Linked DNA regions of Homo sapiens. The protein of the gene in region 2 interacts with the protein of the main gene of each other region in a pairwise test. Each region holds a gene or a part of one and is shown on either strand. Other genes may lie near its edges.

Region 1 (9,269 bases), on a different chromosome or scaffold from region 2:
GGTCTTGAAGGATGAGGAACTAAGAGGAGTTTAGGAAAAGAAGCACTTTCTGCCCTTGCCATCCTTGAGGGAGGCTGAAAAGGCCTCTGCCCATGCTGGTAGAGATTATCCAAACCAAAAATCAAATACAAAAGCGGGACAGGCATAAAACAAGGGACTTCACACGCAAGGGCAAAGGGAAAACAGAGAGGGAGGATGAAGAGGTAGAAAGAAGACAAGAGCCGAATCAGACAACCTGAATTTGAGTCACAGCTCCACCATTTCCAGGCCAAAGTCTCTGGGCAAAGCACTCTTTTTACCTCAGGTTATTCATCTGTAAAATGGGAACAGCTAAGTACCTTTACTTAGAAGTTGTAGAAATAGACAAATTATTTGCTGGACCAGAGTAATACTTCTTGTGTGTAGTGTTACCGGGCACTGCTGGAATCTGGCTGCTCTGAACCCTTAAGAACTGCCTGCTCCTGTCACACCTACGGTAAGGATGAAATGAGATCACACATGTGCAAGTATGGAGGGTAAACAGATCACTGAACATACAGAATGCCCTGCAGAAGTCAGCAGGCAGCATAAATAAAACAAAGGGGCCGGGCGTGGTGGCTCACACTTGTAATCCTAACACTTTGGAAGACCAAGGTACAAGAATCACTTAAACCCAAGAGTTCAAGACCAGCCTGAGGAACAAAGTAAGACCCTGTCTCTACAAAAAAAATTCAAAAATTAGCCAGGCATGGTGCTACATGCCTGTAGTCCCAGCTACTCGGGAGGCTGAGCTGTGAGGATCACTTGAGCCCAGGAAGTCGAGGATGCAGTGAGCTGTGATCATGCCACTGCACTCCAGCCTGGGAGACACAGTGAGACCTTGTCTCAAAAAAAAAAAAAAAAAGGGATCTTGAATAACTGGGGGACATTCACACAGCAGAAAGAAAGAGCCTGTCCAGGACATCTAATCCTGAGAAAACAACTGCCCTGGCTGCTGCAGGGGTAGGAAGGCAGGACCCTGGGGGCCCTGAGTCAAATTCCTCAAGATAAACTCCATTGTCTTCTTCCAGGGCACAGACCCTAGAACTCACTCAACACCAGAACACACAGTACTGCCCCCTTACCCTGCTCCCATCTGACAGCAGGCAGGAGGGCCCTTCCTCAGGAGCACAGCAGCTCCCAGGTCAACCTAGCTACTCTAGGTTTCCACCATAATTGTATGTGGCTCAGCTCTCAGCGCTGCTGATCTGAGCCAGGTCTCTAAGCTGTGCTGTCAAGTCCACCCTTCTCCAAAGCTGCCTTCCTTGACCGCTCTCCCCCGACCCTCAGTAAAATAAGGACTGGCTGGGGAGAGGTGAACTCAGGGCTCTATCACGTCCAGAGAAACAATGTTTGCTTCAACTTGCTTCCAGCTGGATAAGAAAGACCAAGACAGGATCCTAGGAACCCACAGCGTGGGTCAGGGCCTCCCACATTAACCGCACCCACTACTTACTATGAACCAACCAGCACTGTGCTAGCCCTTCGTAAGTACTACTGTCTCATTTGACATGAGACCTGTAACAACCCTATGAGGTAAGAATGATGATCCCCCTTTTACAGAAGGGGAAACTGAGGCACGGGGTGTGAAATAATTTGCTCAAGGACACCTGGCTGAGCTGGGATTTGCAGCAGGCAGTGAGACTCTACTCTGTTCCTCACCATCATGCTACACTGCCTTCTGAAGTTCTGTCAGGATTATGGTTCTCTACAGTCCTGGGATGGCATTTCCCAAACTGAGTTCCTTGTCTTCCCACAACTGAATGTCCAATCAGGATGGAGGGACAAGAAGGAACCCACACCCACTCCCTCAGCAGTCCTGCCGGGCATCTGCTAGCTCCCCGGGGTCCCGCGGACACACCTTCACTCCCTGCTCTTGTCACAAGTCAGTACCCACAGTTCTGAGACTCTGCCCCTGTGGCTGGGTGTTCCCCACTAGAGTCCCAGAAGTCCACCCCCACTCCCCCACCAGCCCAGCCCTGTCCCCTGGCCGCACCGAAGTTGTTGGTGGGGTAGCGCTTGCGGAGCCGCTCCGTGAGCCGAGACACCTTGCTGCGCAGCACCTCATTCTTGCTCAGGAACCCGTTGTCCTGCAGGGCCAGCTCATCCTCTGCTGGGCACGGGGCGCCCTCATCATCCTCCTGTGGGAACAGCTCCTTCCAGTCCTGCCCACCTCTTGCAAGGCTGCAGGACCCGTGTGCAGAGGCATCCTGCGCGGCAGCCCCCACGAGGTGTGGCAGCAGCCGGTTCAGCCACCCTCCCCAGCCCAGCCCCTGCCCACCCACCAAGGCTTCCACTTACCAGCACCACCAAGTGGGTCTCCTGCCTCCCAAGGTGCGGGGAAGAGGAGAGAAAACAGAAAGAAAAAGATAGCAAGAAGAAAGAAGCTACCTGGAGGGGCCCCCAAGCAGAAGGAAGCATGGAAGCGCTGCTCTGAGCTCTGCGCACTTCCCAAATGGTGACATTGACAGACGCCCCCCACAAGAGGATCCCAGCATCAAACAGCCTTGGAGAAAGCTAGGTACTACAGTTTCTCAAACTGGGTGAAAATAATTTAGTAGGTCTTTATTTGAATAGAACAGAAAAGGAAAGAAAATATCCCTTACAACGTATTTTCCGGAAACTTTTGTTTCACTTAAGTTTTACATATTTTATAGACCTAAGTGTGACCTGGGTCAAGATGCAAAATGTGTTCCTTACTATGGGTCATGAACAAAAATGCTTGAAAACCCCTGCTCTACATATTCCCTCCACCAAGATTCACGGTCTACAATCATATATCAAAGTTTTGGAGCAATCTTTTAGCCATCAGAAAGTCAAATGCCTGCATGGCCTGGGCTGATGTATGATTGAGGTGAGTTGGGGTAAATCACAGGCCTGGTGGAAATCCACGAGGTGTTTTTCTTATATCTCAATTTCCCACTTTACAAAGAGAAATAAATAAAGAGAAATGATATCCTACTCTAAGAAAAACAAAAACGCAAATGTGACAAATGGCAACTCCCACTTGACCTCAGTGACAAAATACAGCAGGGGGTGTTGAGGACCACCTGTAGCCACAGCATGTGACCTGCGTAAAGGGGACAGCAGCTCCTTAGCTACACCTACTGCTGCAGACTCAGGACTACCAGAGAAACTGGAAACCTGCAGTTCTAATAAAAATCTCTCCATATTTAAACATTGGCTCAAAAAATTATTTTGAAACTTTGCATGCCAAATAAAACACTTCTGCAAACTACCAATTTGAATTACCATCCTAAAATCAAGAAAGCTGTTTAACTTCCTCTGACCTAGCACTTGGCCATGCAACTACTTTCTCCAACCTCCCCTCCCAGCCCCGCAAAGGGACATCTTACGGAACTCACTCTGCAGAAGAGCGGAGACCCAGGGCAGTAGCCTCCTCAAAAGCTGCCTTTCCTATATCAAAGGCACCAAGCCCACGGTCTCCAGCAAAGGCCAGAAATCGTCCAGCTCCCCTAGCAGGGCATTACCCGGAGACTTCCAGAGCCACTCTTGCCCTGGGCACCCAGGACAGCTGGCTCAACCAGAAACAGGAGTGGGGAGGGGTTCAGTGGCACTCTTTCAACCAGTGAGTTCTAGCTCACAGCAAGTTTTAGCTTCTCACTTGGACATTAAAAAACAAAAACAAAAAACAGCTCCAGGACCACCCAATTTCTGGCCTGCTGAGTAGAGGATGCTGGGGAAGGGCCACCCACCTCAATCGCATCTTTAAACTCTTCATCTGGCTCAGCCTCCTCAGCCTCCTCCACGCTGCCCGGTGTGAGGTCCTGGGAAGAGAGACTCTATGACAGAAGGAGAAGGATGGCAGCGCTGCTCCCTAAGGCAGAGGACCACCTCCCCAAGCCAGCATCCAGGCTACCCAAAACACCACGAAATGGCACAATGGCAAGAAAGAAGGAACTCACAGGAAGGAGCAACCTCTAGCCTGGCAGGGCGGGGGAGATGGAAACACGAGCACAGCTGGCCCTACAGTGGCCACATCGCACAGTGGTTGAAGGCACGAGCTCTAGAACCACAGGGCTGGGGTCTTAGACCCAGCCCTGCCACTTACCAGCCACTCTGTGCCTCAGCCTTCTCTTCCACAAATGAGAATGATCTCTTTCTCAGAAATAACCAGCCTGGTGCAGTGGCTCACGCCTGTAATCCCAGCACTTTGGGAGGCCGAGGCAGGCACATCACTTGAGCCCAGGAGTTTGAGACCAGCCTGGGCAACATGGCAAAACCTCATCTTTACTAAAAATACAAAAAAATTAGCTGGGCGTGGTGGCACCTGCCTGCAGTCCCAGCTACCCAAGAGGCTGAGGTGGGAGGACTGCCTGAGCCCAGGAGATGGAGGTTGTAGTGAGCTGTGATTGCCCCACTGCCCTCTAGCCTGGGTGACAGAGGGAGGCCTTATCTCAAAAAAAAAGGAAAAAAAAAAAAGAAAAGGAAAGAAAGAACCTGCACTCCATGATGTGAATATCTATCTATAAAGCACTTGGAGCAGCATCTGACACAGGGTAAGCACTCAGTGAAGCATGGAGTAGCTGTTTTTATTACAATTATTATTATTGAACACTTCAGGGGAGTTAAGGCCTGGGAAATAGCAGGAACTACAACAGAGGCCAGCCCAGGAGCCAAAAACAAGCTGATAACAGGGGGGCCCACAAGCGGCCACAGCAGGCTCTGCCCTGACAGTGGCACTTACCTCCGTGGGTGTGAGGGCAGGCGTGCTGTCCATCAGACCATCCTTCCCCCCAACATCTGGTGGTGGAGGACTCTCAAAGGCATGCTCTTCCTGCTTTGGGTTCATCCTCTGCTGCAGAGATGCCCTGTACTCAGACACAACTACCCAGGGAATGGAGAACAAGGTAGGAGGCAAAAATGAGACACCGTGAGTGGCACTTTAGGGGTACCCACTTCTGCAGCTGGCTGGCCTCTCTTCCCTTCACTACAGGAAAGAGTCACCCTCCTAACTCTGAGCGAGTCACCTAACTTAAGCCTCTTAAACAAAACTTAGATACCACCACCTGCCCCAGACAGCTACAGAGATTAAATGTAGTAAATGCTCAATAAATCATGGCTTCTGTAATAAATAACTCTACCACAGGGAGGAAAACAAATACAGCAATCACCCAAACATATGTACAGACTCGGGCCTCTGCGACTCAGTGCCTCTCCAGACTGCCTCAGCGCTTTAGAAGCCAGACAACAGAGGGGTATTCTGGGATCACACAGAGATGTGGTAGCAACTCCAGGTGGCTGCACCCCAGGGGATGGGTGGCAGCTTTGGGAAAAACATCCTTCCCTCATCTTCCAGAAGCCATCATATCATATAAGCAGTGATTCATCTGCCTTGGGAAGGGAGCGAAGGGAGATGGGAGCCCAATGGTAGCAGCCTCCCCTGGTGAGATTCCAGCTTCATCTAACATCTCAGAGATGCAGAGCCCATGAGAGAGGACCCCAGTGTGGTGTTGCACTTGTGGAAGCACAGCAAACTGATGATTAGCTGTAGAGACAGAAGAACTGGGGAGCCTAGCCTAGCCCTCAGAGCCAGCTTGGGCCCCATCTTTCAGGCCCTTCAGGGCTTACCTCGGAAGAACTCCACATTCCCCAGAAAGAGCGTGCTGTTTAAAAGGGTGAGAACCCAGCAGAGTGGCAGCAAATACAGCATGCAGACTGTGCCCAGAAGAGCCCCATAGAACCTGGATGACAGGGAAGAACCACAAGATCAGAAATTCGTAACAGCAGAAGGAGACGGGTTTGGAGCACACCCACAGCAGGGTCCAGGTGAGACACAGCTCTGGGCACATTAATAAACTGACAAGAGCCGCTCATCAAACCAGCGGAAAATGGCGATGAAGACTGAGAACTATCCCAAGTCACCGGTGCAAACACCTGATGCTGGTGAGGCCAAAGTGGTGTCAGCTGGTGGCACATAAACTGGTTCAACCATCATCACTCCTTAAGGTCTAGACTCTGAAGTCTAGAGTAAGACAGACTGGGATTTGAATCCAGCTCTGCCACTTCTCATTCTGAGAAGTCTCTTGGTTCTCTGGGCACAGCTCCCTTCCCGTGTAAGATGGGGACTGAAGTAGCGCCTACCTAATAGAGTTACTATAAGAGTGAGATAATACAGAGGGAGTGTTGAGCAGTGCCTGGCACCAGGTGAACACAACAAACATTAGTTATCACTATTATTCATATTAAAGAGCCTCAAAAACACCCATTCTGTTTGATATGGTAGTTTCATCCTTGAATTTACTCCAAGAAAAATTTTCTAAAACATTAAAGCTAAATCCATAAAAATGTTTACCATGGGGTTAGTAATGAAAAGGGAAATTGACTAAATCTGTAACAGAATGGTTTCACAAATTATATTTGCCATCTATATTAATCTGGTATTATAAATAATTCCAAAAGCTATATAGCAACAAAGAAAATCATCTTTAATATAATGATAAGTGGAAAACAAAAGAAAAATTGAACATACACTATGAAACTATACATCCGTAAAGTAGATGCATGTGACAAATTCTAGCAGGCAAAACAAACAAGAGATTCGGCTGCATGGTGGATTATATGGTGAGTTATTTTTCTATTATTATTTTTACCACACATAAAAGCAAGCATCTAAACAAAAGCAGTACATTAGAGCCCGCAAGCATATGTGCAGATATACACACAAGAGCCCAGGAGGCGAGCTCTTCCCCTGAGGTAAGAGGGGCAGAGGTCCTCTCAAGGCAGCTGGCTTTGCTCGGGCTCAAGCTGCAAATTCCTATAGGGTGGTGGCGGGAGAGGAGGGGTCACTCACTGTGAGGACACGACGGGGTTCTCCCAGTGCAGCACGCGGTAGGCGGCTTCACATGTGCAGCACAGGCGGCTCAGGAAGGCCTCCAGCTGGATCAAGCTACAGACACAGGGGCTTTGGTGAGTGGGCAGGACAGAAGCCCTGGGAAGTGGAGCCTGGGGCCTTGCAGGTACAGTTGGCTAGGGATGGTCAATCTCTTTAAACACACTCACCATGTGCTTAAAGAGAGAGGAGTCGAGAGAGCATGGGAGAAACAGGCCTGGCTAAGCCACCCCAGCTACATTTCAGTCCCCTTTTTGGAGCCTCTTGCTGAGGTGGAAACAGTATAAATGTTCCTGCTTTGGTCTTCTAACTGTTGATGTCAGGCAGGCTACTGAAATTCTCCAGGGCTGTGGCTTCTTTATCTATAAAATGAGGATCAGAGGACCCACCTCACGGGTACACAGCAGCTGTCAGAATAAATGGCATGATATTCTCTACCTGGGATGTGAAACAGACTCACTTGGGGAGTTCTGGTTGTTGTTTTTTTAAACATGGATGAACCACAGAAGCCATGAGCACAATCTGAACCCAGATCTGGGTTTCTGAAGGGAAACCAGGAAACATGGAGATAAGCTGATTCCAGGGCTGGGGCAGGGAAGTATAAGATGAATTTGACCATCCTGTTGTACCATAAAGGAAGCATTCAAAAATGACAGGGACCAATGCAAACAAGAGCCAACTCAAAAGAGCTCCTACTGGCCAAATCTAGGACAATTTGAGATCAAAATAAATAATGATAGTAATAGATTCTAACTCATCAAATAAAATATAAATCTATGAGTTCATACTGATAATAGTAAGAAAGAGCTTCCTTATAGTAGAAAGCCAGCTAAAAAAATGTCGATAGAATAATTAGAAGATCATCTTTGCAACCATCATAGTAATAAACTGATTAAGGCAAGACCCATCAATGGATTTTTAAAGCAGTGGATAAATGTTTGATGAGGAACAAGATATTTACATAGTCTCAAAGTATCTCCCCTCAAATTACTACTAATGAAGAGTAAAATGATAATTTACAGTATGGATGCCTTAACCAAGTGATCAAAGTCAGTATTTCCTGACATCAGGTGCCTCCTGATACGGATGTACTGAACATGACACATCACTTGTCACACTCTAAATCTGATCACAAGGAACCAAACAATCCAAAAATTAGGGAGATTCTACAAAATAATAAGCTTGTACTATTCAAAAATGTCAAGGTCACAAGAAACAAGGACTGAGGAACTGCTCCAGATTAAAGAAGACTAAAGAGACATAAAAAAATTAAACATGATGTATAATCCTGAATTGGATCCCAGATCAGGGAAACTGATACAAAGAACTTTATTAGGACACCCACACTGGCTCACACCTGTAGTCCCAGCACTTTGGGAGGCTGAAGCAGGAGGATTGCTAGAGCCCAGGAATTCAAGGCCAGCCTGGGCAAGACAATGAGACCCTATCTCTACAAAAAAATTGTTTTAATTAGCAGGGTATGGTGCATGTGCCTGTGGTCCCAGCTACTCAGGAGGCTGAGGCAGAAGGATCACTTGAGTCCAGGAGGTTGAGGCTGCAGTGAGCCATGATCATGCCACTGCATTCCAGCCTGGATGACAGAGCAAAACTCCGTCTCAAAAAGTAAAAAAAAAAAAAGAAAAAAGGAAAAAAATTAATAAAAGAAGAAAAAGAACTTTATTAATACAACTGGTAAAATCCGATTACGAATTATACATTAGTTATCAACGTTAAGTTTCCTAATTTTGATTACAGCTCTGTGGATATTTAAGAGAATGTCCTTGTTCTTAGGAAATACACGCTGAAGTATTAAGTCACGTTTGCAACTTACTTTCAAATGGTTTAGGAAAAAGAAAAGAATATGTATATGTAGAGAGATAGACGAAGCCAACATGGCAAAATGTTAATAATTGTTCTATCTGGGTAAAAGGCATTCTTGGTATTATTCCTGTACTTCTTTAAGTTTAAAACTATTTCAGGCTGGGTGCGGTGGCTCATGCCTGCAATCCCAGCACTTTGGGAGGCCAAGGCAGGCAGATCACCTGAGGCTGAAGTTCGAGACCAGCCTGGCCAACATGATGAAACCTCATCTCTACTAAAAATACAAAAATTAGCTGGACATGGTGGCACATGCCTGTAATCCCAGCTACTCTGGAGGCTGAGGCACGAGAATCGCCTGAACACAGGAGGCAGAGGTTGCAGTGAGCCGAGATCACGCCACTGCATTTCAGCCTGGGTTACATAACAAGACTCTGTCTCAAAAAAAAAAAAAAATATATATATATATATATATATATGTGTATATATATATAAAACTATTTCAAAGTAAGAAAGTCTTTTTTAAAAAAACTACATATCCAGGCCCCACTCCAGATAACTGACTCGGAATTTCTGGGGT
Region 2 (4,827 bases):
ATAAATCACAGCATTTTTCTGTATGTGAAAATATGAATGCCAAAGTGGATATAAACACGTAATAATATTTTCTACATGGTGTAGTAGTGTTTCTTCTTCTCCAGGTGTGATCCAGGAAAAATCTCCAATAGAATCATGAGGGAGTGATTGTTTTGAATGCAGATTCCTGTCCTACTCAGCATCTACTTTTTCAGATCTGTGGGAGCAGCAGTTCAATTTCCTCTGGTAAAATAGAAACAAGAATGCTGTACTTGCTTCCTAGGTTCTTGTGAATATTTAAACAGCATGTATTGTGAGGTTAGCACTCTACTTGGCACATATCAAGTTTCCTTTTTTCTTCTAAAATAACATATATGTACTCACAAATGACTTGTTCAAGAATACCTGGTCATGGTGCCATTTTTCTCTTTTCTAAGAAGAACTAAGGCAATTTTTGCTACTTTGAACAGCAAGGGACAAACACATCATTCCTTTTCTGATTCATGGCTATGGTGTATTCTTTCAAATAACCTCTTCCCAGTTATTTTCTATGCTCCCTAGGCACTGGAAGACATGCTCTACTTAAAAAAGCAAAACAAAACAAAATAACAAAAGACAACACTGAGTATAAAGTTTCATAAATTTGAATTTAATTAATTAAAAATTTTAGGTAACTCACATAGGGCTAAGCTTAAATATATATTCTCTGACTTTAAAGCTTAAGGTTTTATCAATGACCGTCATTGGTTTGGATTTTAATAAACTCATTTTAAAACTTTTCAAGAATCAAAATGAAAATTAACAAATATTGATGTAATCATCATATACTACTATTATCTATTCATCAAGAGTAAAACCTACTTTCCAACAATCTAGTTCAAAAATAAAGTAAAAATAATTTCTCTCTCTTCACCCAGAGATAACCACTCCTAATATTTTTGGTTTATTTTCCTTAGTTTTTTTCAGTATGTACACATAAAATACATTTTCTAAAATGTGGATCATATTCTATGTATCACACAATTTGCGAGCCATTTCCAATTCAATAGATGAAATTTTTTGTCATATTCTTGATTGTCTGCTATTTCATTGTATAGGTGTGCCATAATTTATTTCATCAATCTCATGTTATTGGATTATTGGACTATATTTTTACTCTTTATTAGAAAATTGACAATACCTTTAGGATAAATTCTTAGAGAATTACTAGATCAAAGAATATGTGGTGTGTGTGTGTGCGTGTGTGTGTGTGTGTTTCCAATGTCCTCAGCATTACAGGGGTATTATTGTAATTTCTACTTCTTTGTTAATATGGTAAGTGAAAAATAGTATCTCTTTGTTTTAACTTACATTCTTCAAATATTAGAAAATTGGGATCTGGGTGCGGTGACTCACACCTGTAATCCCAGCACTTTCGGGGGGCGAGCTGGGCATATCGCTTGAGCTTAGGAGTTCCAGACCAGCCTAGGCAACATAGCGAAACCCCATCTCTACAAAAAATCCAAAAAAAAAAAAAAAAAAAAAAGCCCAGCATAGTGGCGCATGCTGTGATCCCAGCTACTTGGAAGGCTGAGGTGGGAGGATGGCTTGAGCCAGGGGAGTGGAAGCTGCAGTGAGCCGAGATCACACCACTGCACTCCAGACTAAGTGACAGAGTGAGACCCTGTCTAAAAAAAAAGAAAAATCGAAAAACAGTTTATGACCTATTGTAGTCATTTTGTGAATTGCTTTTTCATACCGTTAGTCCCTTCTGATATTACAGTCTTTCTCCTATTTTGAAAATAGCTTCACCAGTTTGTCTTTTGGCTTTGCTTAAGGGTTTTTATCATACAGAAGTATTTTGGGGATTTTGTTGTTGTTGTTTCATTGTATCAATCCTTTCCTATATAATTTCTTCTTTTAAGTTCTACTTAGAACGTTTTTTTCTTAACCCAAGGTTATACAAATACTTACCTATACATTCTGGTACAAAATATAAAGTACATATTCAAGTGTATATAAGAATTTAAAATAGCAATTCATTCAACCATTTATTCATTCATGCATATTCATTCACGTAAATTGAGCACATGTACACTAAGAACTGTTCTAAGTGGGGATAAAGCTGTGAACAAGACTACCAGGGTTCTTGCTCTCATAAAGTTATTATTCCAGAAGGAATATGACATAGCATATAATTTAATGTGAGCTTTCCAATCAATGAGGGAAAGAATGGATTATTCAGTATACAATGCTGTTACAACTAGTTAACCATTAGGAAAAGAAGTAAGATTATTTTATACCTAACATCAAGTGTATTACAAATGGATTTAAAAACTATATTTTAAAAATAAAACCATTTGAAAATAGTACAAAAAACATAAATGAATATTATATAAAGAAACAGGTACATTCCTAAACATGAAAACTTTACAGCAAGATTTCAAGGCAACTCTGGAAGTGACATTATTTTTAATGGAATAAAACAAGGTAATTTTTGAACAATAATCTTTATTAGTGTATTTTTAAAGGTACATATAATCCTGAGCTACAGCATTTATACATTTGTCATTTACTCTTTGAAGTGTACATGTATTTTGCTTCAAATTCTGTGATGAGTACGTTTTTATACTAATCAGTATCATAAATAATTTAAAATATTAGTCTTATCTCTGGAATCACCAATCAATTTACTCAGATGATCTCACTGTCTAATTCTACTACATTTAAAGACTGTAGAACATTTGTGATTAAGCAATTTCTTTTTCAAAACTGCAAAGATGGGCAGTGCGAGAGCTGATTCCATAAATTTCAATGAATTCTTAGAAAATTATGTTGTTCTTTATTTCTGATCTATTTTCTTGAATAATTTGGGTAATTATCTGATCAGTTACCTTTGAGAAGAATAGTAAAAGTACCTCTAATCTCAACATTTTAGCTACTGTAAAATGTCATAAGCTTCCTTCAAATATAAGTAGTACATAATTACCTCAATAAGAAAAATTTACCATGATCTAAGGGAAAGGGGCACAACCCAATGTAAATATATCTTTGGATAAATGGTTAAGTATTATAAAACATGTTATGTGAAATACTTCCTCAAGCCTCTATAAAGGAATACATAGAGCTGATAAACATTAAATTCCATAATCCAGACCAGATCTTTTATAAATGGTAAATAAAAAGGCAAAAATGAAAGACAAAAGTCCTGTGATCTTTGAGAAAAGACATTTATCCAACATCTCCAACTGTGGACAAATAAATATTCGTTCTTGTATTTTAAATTACTACCAAAATATTTTATCTTTCTACAAACAACAAAAAACAAGCAAACAGTATCTAGAAATTTTTTTTCCTCTGACAAGAATGTCAAGTCTTTGAAGTTACACTAAATTTTTTTTTTTTTCCTGAATAAGGTCACTATAATCTTAGGTTAAAGTTACAGTAAGCAGTTCAAGCAAAATGCATATTGCTTAGGTTTTAAGCAAGCAATTTTGATACTGTTTAATTAAAATGTAAATATAAATGTGAAACTATTATAGAAATATTTATAAACACTTAGGAATACTCATGTATCAGCAAGTAATGAAATAACTTATTTAAAAATAATAAAAGGGTGAGAGTAAATGTAATGTTTGGTAACAAATCCAAAAATATCTATAAGAGATGTAAAAGAACATGAAAAGGCTTTATTATTCAAATTTTGAAAACCTAGCAGCAAAACAATTTGCATATAATATAGTGCAATGAGCATTTGTTCATAAAAGACTCCCAAAGTCTTGAAACGATTATACATAAACCAGAATGGAATCCATTAGGATAAATAATTTAAAGATGTCCAGAGTAGCTTACCAAGAACTGCTAGACACTCTCACCTGCATTACTGAATCATAAACAAGCTTATGCAAAACTGTGTTCTGGATAACTGACTCTTATGGCTCCCCAATAACAAGCTCGGATAAGGCAGATCAATCCTAGGAGATAAGCAATTGCCCAAGAAACATAGGTTGCTCGAAATCGCCTTGCAAAATCTGGGGTGCCAACCTAAAATAAAAAGCAATATAAAAACAAAATATTAGAAACTTTAAAAAATATCTGCTTAGGGAACTTGTATCAGCTTACATGTGATTGTTATGAAATATACCCCCAGACCGAATACACAAAGTCCTTATAAGAGTAGGTGTATCTGTTGACTGCAACTGATAGACCATACTGCTACTTGTAGTAACTATAAATGTTATGAAGTAAACAAAAAAGCACACTAAACTATATTATCTCTACAAGGAATTTAATCCATGTAACTTCTTACTATCATGGGACACAATAGGACATTGCTAATAATAAGGGACTAGTTGTACTGACAAACAAAGGAGCATGGAAATGGCAGCCAAAGAGATTATCTTCCTCTTCTGGCATAATCCCCATGCTAACTGCTTAGCTCCAGTCTTCTCTAAAAACAAGCCATCCTCATATTGGTAATAAATCTCTGCTTGATTTGGATAAAGAGAAGAGTGGTTTTTTTAGATCTCTGTAGCTGAATGAATATTGCTTTGAATAATAAGAGACCCCATAGCCATAAAAATTAGTTCTGGCACTGATTTTTTTTTAAATGGGCTTTTGCTAAATAGATGATAAAATCCCCAACAGTAAGGACTTTTGGAGGTAAAAAGACACCGTTTCACTTGGATGGGCGAGTTCAATCAAAAAGAGGTCCATGGATTGGGTTTCTGATTGCTCATAATCATTCAGAAGCTTCTAGTGCTGGCATGCCAAGGAGGCAGCCTCTTCAGGAATCCCTGAAGGTTGTCCCAGGCCTCATGATTGACTACTGATAAAGTTGAGAGGACAGAATTCTAACATCAAAGTGTA

The links. Proteins that work in one complex are often made in the same cells at the same time.
Region 1: the proteins of PIP4P2 (region 2) and ZFYVE27 interact in binary tests that used the Homo sapiens proteins (3 or more experiments, as listed by UniProt).

Annotation. Positions count from the first base shown.
Region 1 is NC_000010.11:97,745,928-97,755,196, reverse strand, and holds part of ZFYVE27 (protrudin), read right to left. Parts: intron 6,929-9,269; coding exon 6,833-6,928; intron 5,724-6,832; coding exon 5,611-5,723; intron 4,867-5,610; coding exon 4,727-4,866; intron 3,822-4,726; coding exon of another isoform or gene 3,807-3,821; coding exon 3,735-3,806; intron 2,341-3,734; coding exon 2,320-2,340; intron 2,160-2,319; coding exon 2,015-2,159; intron 471-2,014; coding exon of another isoform or gene 445-470; exon of another isoform or gene 1-444. UniProt on the Homo sapiens protein: Key regulator of RAB11-dependent vesicular trafficking during neurite extension through polarized membrane transport. Promotes axonal elongation and contributes to the establishment of neuronal cell polarity.
Region 2 is NC_000008.11:90,991,819-90,996,645, forward strand, and holds the end of PIP4P2 (type 2 phosphatidylinositol 4,5-bisphosphate 4-phosphatase), read right to left. Parts: intron 4,003-4,827; coding exon 3,859-4,002; 3' UTR 1,984-3,858; downstream 1-1,983. UniProt on the Homo sapiens protein: Catalyzes the hydrolysis of phosphatidylinositol-4,5-bisphosphate (PtdIns-4,5-P2) to phosphatidylinositol-4-phosphate (PtdIns-4-P).